Linked DNA regions of Homo sapiens: region 2 is linked to region 1. The links come from fine-mapping of genetic effects on gene expression. A gene starts in region 1. The other region holds a variant in brackets. All regions are shown on one strand. Distances are between the middles of the regions.

Region 1 (2,809 bases):
GGGAGCAGGCCCATTTAATCAAAGTTTTGCAGTGTCCTTGATGAGAAACGCCCGGAGTATCCGCCCCGCACGGGCGGAGAGTTGGCGACTTTCACTCTGCTTTTTAAACTGGCAAGACGCCATCATCAGCAAACCACATTGTCCTGCCGGCCGGACCTGCCCGACGGCGGCCGCATCCCACGGCTCACGCGGGGCTGGACATTCGGACAAGGACCAGGGTCGCAGCCCGAAGCACGTGGTCTGTCACGTAGAGCACAAAAAGCAGTGCCCTGCGGAGTTCACTGACTCCCGCGGCGTACACAACGCCGCCGCCTCCATCTCCAGCCAAGTTGGCTTCCCTGGCCATCTTACAGCGCGGACGGCCGCCCATAAACGGGAAGCCCTCGCGGTGTCGCCCACACCTACGCTACAGGTGAACGCACCGGGAGCAAAACTTCGGGCTCCGAAAGCACCCCGGACACCAGAGGCTCTTGGGCGCGGTCCGAAGAGGGCAGGCGAGTGGAAGACGGGCTGTTTTTAAGCGACCGCGTGTTGCTCTCATTGTCGCATCCGCATCCCTCCGGAGTTGAGCAAACAACGCCACGCCGCGTGCGCTCCGGCAGAGCCCAGCACTGACCCCCAAAGGCCGATTTAAAGACCCTCGGCCGCCAGCTCGGAAGCGGATGGCAACTTAGTTTCCGAGCGAATGGCGTTTATTGTCCACCCTAGTCCGAGGGCTGCAGTCAACTAAACCACGAGGTTTCACAACGGCGCCCGACCCTGCCCGCGCCTCGCGCCCACGCGGACGCACCGACCCCGGCCGCTGCGCGGTGGCCAACGAGTCGCTTTCCTCTCGGGCCTTTCGGCCGCCGGGCTCCTTTCCGCGAGAGAACACTGCGGCGGAGAAAAGTCATTGTCACCTTCAACGTGGATCCCTCAACTCCGGCGACTCCTCAATTATGCCCAGGCTCCACTCACTTCCCCGCCCCGAGACTTTCGGTTTGCCTCAAATACCCTCCCCAATTAATAAATACACACTAAACACGAGCGTACCAAAGAACCTGGGGTCTGAAGATCACGAAAACAGCGCTCCCAACAATGCCACCTCCAAGACAAAACTTCCTGTGTGTATGTGGAAGGACGGGGGGAGGTGGGTGGAGGTGAAAAGAGAAAAAAAAAAACACTGAAATCAAAGCCTCGTGAGACAGTTTTGCACTAGAAGCATGGTGAGAGTCACTCACCTTCCAAAAGCAGCCGTTCCACGCGCAATAATGTCCCCGAGGTGCGGAGTGCACGCCAGGCCAGTCCCCCTCAAGCGCTCCCTCCTCCTCAACTGCCTTGTCTAGAAAGATAGTCTCCTGCAGTTCTGCAGTTGCTACCGCTGGCCGGGAAGGTGTAGATTCCGCTTTCCCTCTGCGCACGCGCGGCTCCCGGCACAAAATTCTCTTGAATCGAACTTATTTGCATACGGGCGCGCGCACGTTGCGGGCTGGGAGGGGGAGAAGTCCCGGCGACCGCGCGCGCTCCCGAGGCCTCTATTGTCCTTTTAAGGGGAGAAGCTCCGCGGCGCGGGAAACGCGGCGGCCAGAGGGAAACGGGGGCGGGGACTGCTTACTACGGCGGACGTCACATAAACAAACGCCCCCCCCCCCGGCTGCAGGCCGCGGCGGAGAGGGAGAGGCGAGGTGGGAAAGGGAAAGGTTAGCAACTGAGGGGAGGGCTGCGCTGCTTGGCGTGTTTTCCGCCCCCGAAGTTGTTAGGGGCACCATTGAGCGCTGAAAAATTGTTCTGAAAGCTGCTTTTGCAAAATTCTCACACCTGTCCCCACTGTCGGTGACAGAGGAGGTGGTCTTGTAAGCACCCAGACTGAATTTATACTAATCCCACGTTTCCTAAATTTTGTTTGAAGTTAGGTTTTTGAAGCTTGTAAAAAAAAAATCCTCTGGGGCCAGCAAAGGTTTAGTTTTTGTGCAGTTGTAATGAGTCGTTTAATAAAGTCCCATTTTAACACCCTAGCCATTCGCTAACTCCCGCTTGCCCTTCTCAAATAGTAACCCAACCCATAACAATCCAGTTTTTTCCTCCACTTCGGCCTTAAGATTTCAAGTCTCTCCGAATTGAATGATTGTTAATTTCCGTGGGAACAGTGCCGCTTTCTTTAAAAGACTAGGCATTGGAAAGCCAATAACCTAGGGACAGGCATACCTCCTCTAGCAGCTTGTAAAGGGTGTTCCACTCACCCAGAAATAATTCCAGTAACTGGTGGTCTTGGGAATGGAAAAAATAACGAGTGACGTACAGACTTTTCAATGCAGAATATGTAATAATTCAACAATCTAAGCGCTTTCTAGACTCCGGAAGAAAAAAACTGAAGTAACTCTTCTCAGATTGATAAGAGGAAAATGAAAACCGAATGATTGATTCGCCTTTGTCCCAAGGACACACTTAACACCAACAGGCAGAAACCCGGGGTTAATGATAGAGGGTGGGGAGAGAGGAAGGATGTTTTTCCCAGAAACTTGATATTGGTCCCAAGTTACAAAAGTGTGAAAATCAACCATAAAACTTAATCATCTGCTGACACGTTTCGCTGCTTTCACTGCAGTGTCAACAATACAGATTTAAATAGTTACTTCTGAAATGTTAATTTAATTCAACAGGCAATTCCTAGTACATACAGTATAAACCCACTTCTGAACTCCTCAACTAATACTTCTTTATTTTTCTTTAGGTTCTGTAACATACTATTCCTGTAACTGTATATGAAAACTATATTATAAATACCTGAAAAGATAGCCTGGCGTGGTGGTGGGCACCTGTAATCCCAGCT
Region 2 (2,809 bases), 56 kb before region 1:
CTATGTTGTCCAGGCTGGTCTCAAACTCCTGGCCTCAAGAAATCCTCCCACTTTAGCCTCCCAAAGTGCTGGGATTACAGGTGTGAGCCACCACACCAGGCCCAGTTTTAAACACAGAAGCTGAATTTCTAATTCCAGTCACAGTTCCATCATCAATGAGGACAAAAGAAGTAAGAGTGCATGTATTTAACAAAACATTATATTTTTCTTTGTAAGCAAATGACTAAAATTAACAAGAAATTACTGGATAACTGCCTCACTCATTTGCCATCACTTTTTCCAACTGCTGCTCCTACTGTCTTAATTACTTTTGTCTGGTGCTTTGCAGAACTGTCACTGCGAGGATTCATTTTGGACCTTAACTGTCAGATCACTTTAGCCAGGTTTCATCTCCTGCTAAAGATTCCACATGAAGAGATGGCATAAAGGAGCTGGTGGGTACAAGGCTCTTCACAGACATGCAAACCTGGAGAAACCATCTGTGGCCAGCATTCCTTGTTCATCTAAGAAAATACATGTTCCTTTATAATCTAGTTTTCCAAACATGGATCACCTCCTCTTCCCCTAAATTTTCTTTCCTTGTAGCTACACAAATGAAACCACTCAAGTTCCCATCTCTTCTCCCTGCCAGTGTTGCATCGGGCTGATAATGCTGGACGGGAGAAAACAAACCTCTTTGACTCTTCCGCCATCTACTGACATGGAAAACTGCCTATGCGGCAGTGAAACATAAAGAACTACCGGAAAAGAGGAGGACCTAGATGCTGAGCCCTGATATGGAAGACAAAAGACCAAGGTTGTTACTGAACTGGGGGATGGGGATGGAGAGCTGGATTTACAAGTGATGTCTTTTTAAAAAAAAAAAATATCTTAGGCTGGGTGCAGTAGCTCACACCTGTAATCCCAGCACTTTGGGAGGCTGAGGTGGGCAGATCACTTGAGGTCTTCTAGTACTTGGCAACATCTATTACTGCACTGCTAAGTTATGGAATCACATTTGTTTTCCCTGAAATAAGTTTTCTTGGCTTCTCCATCCACTGATAATCTCTCCCACAATATTGTGACTTGATTCTGTTCCAGGTGAACCTTTTCCTAGTATTTCTTGTATTCTTTATTATCTGTCATGTTAGGGCAGCTGTGGAGCTTCATTTTTACAACTGCTGAATCTAAATTTAACTGCTGATTTTCTACCATCCATTTTCAACCTTCTTTAAAAAGCCTGGTGAGTAACTTTATCTGTCATGGCCCATTTCAATGCCCTCAATAGTAAAACCGGCGAATGTGGAGACCCATCCTTAATGAAGAGACCAGTTTGGTCATTCTTACTATTTTCCATGGATTTTCAACATGA[T/G]TAAGAAAAAATAATTTGAGGCTGAGAATTGTAGTTACCCAACTGAATGGAAGGCAAAGGAAGAAACTAGACGCTCCCAGGTAACTGCCCAGTTTTTGTATTTGTTTTTCCTTTCCACCAATGACAAGGTATGCTCAATAACTTTACTCCCGAAGGAGGATATCCCATTCTGAAAAACACACCACTGTATGCGATAAAGGCAGGGGGAGGAAACATTACACTGTGGGAGAGGGAACAAACGTTTGATCAGCGTGTAACAGAAAACAGTTCTGGCAACTATTATTTCTTCTTCTCCCTCAAATCCAGGAAAGGTCCATAGGCCATTTTCTGTAATATTTCACCAACCAAAATGATCTCTTGGACTTGAAAATAAACGCCCCCATTTCCAACCCTCCATCACTCTAAAATTATTAGTGATCTTCAGGTACTTGAAAAAGTAAACTTCTGGCCAGGCGCAGTGGCTCATGCCTGTGATCCCAACATTTTGGAAGGCCGAGGCAGGCGGATCACTTGAGGTCAGGAGTTTGAGACCACCCTTGCCAACATGGTAGAACGCCATCTCTACTAAAAGTACAAAAATTAGCCAAGTGTGGTGGTGCACACCTGTAGTGCCAGCTGCTTGGGAGGCTGAGGCAGGAGAATCGCTTGAACCCGGGAGGCGGAGGTTGTAGTGAGCTGAGATCGTACCACTGCACTGTGACAGAGCAGGCTCCATCTCAAAAAAAAAAAGTAAACTAAACTTCTTATTGAAATGTAATGCACAGAGAAGTATGCAGCTCTCTCCAAACCTTTTTTATCTCTTTCCAATTATTTTTTTAAAAAAGTATATGTGCCCCAGCATGCTTCCTTGTTATGAACTGTGCACAGGTAGGACTCTGCTAATATTATGTAAATTATAAAACATATACAAACAGGACAGGAGAGAAAATGAGGAAAAATCAACAGAAATAGGAGTTCTAATTTTTACTTTGCACACTTCAATGGGCCAGTCTTACATATAACTTTAGAAATCACAGCTTTAAAGACAGTGGCAACACGCTGCATTCACAACCAGGTTGACTGGAGGCTTTAGGAAAGGTTTGGTAGCTTCTGGCCTCAATGGTATGACATCAACTCAATCTCCAAAAATACACTGGACAGAAATCCAGCTGTCCTAAAAGTTTAGAAATGTGGCCACCATGTCTGTGATATCCAAGGGTTGCAAATCACATTGCATGTCTTTATCCGCAACGGCAGTCTTCTAGGAAAATGGCATTTGGGGAAGGAAGAAGGTGGATACAAATATACCTTCTTCCTCCTTTGTGATAATATAAAATTAATTACAGAAAAAGTAAGGGTTGGCTCTTAGCTGTTATTAAAGATTAAAATTATCTTGGTCAAAGGGAAATAGAAATTAGGTTCTCCAAACTTTTAAAACGTGTTTCTAAGGTTTACAGTTGAGGTGAAATAATTGCTTAG

The links. PIP is the estimated chance that this variant, and not a neighbour inherited with it, causes the effect.
Region 2: its variant is fine-mapped to the expression of SINHCAF in whole blood (TOPMed, PIP above 0.99).

The regions. Positions count from the first base shown.
Region 1 is chr12:31,324,804-31,327,612 of GRCh38, forward strand. SINHCAF (SIN3-HDAC complex associated factor) reads right to left here and starts at 1,347. Exons shown (of 6, transcript NM_001135812.2): 1 at 1,221-1,347. FLJ13224 (a long non-coding RNA gene) reads left to right here. Exons shown (of 1, transcript NR_026806.1): 1 at 1-1,142. RefSeq lists an enhancer at 436-1,367.
Region 2 is chr12:31,269,124-31,271,932 of GRCh38, forward strand. No RefSeq gene overlaps it. Among named protein-coding and RNA genes, the nearest start is that of FLJ13224, 54 kb to the right of the region's middle. The variant T/G (reference allele first, on the strand shown) is at 1,352.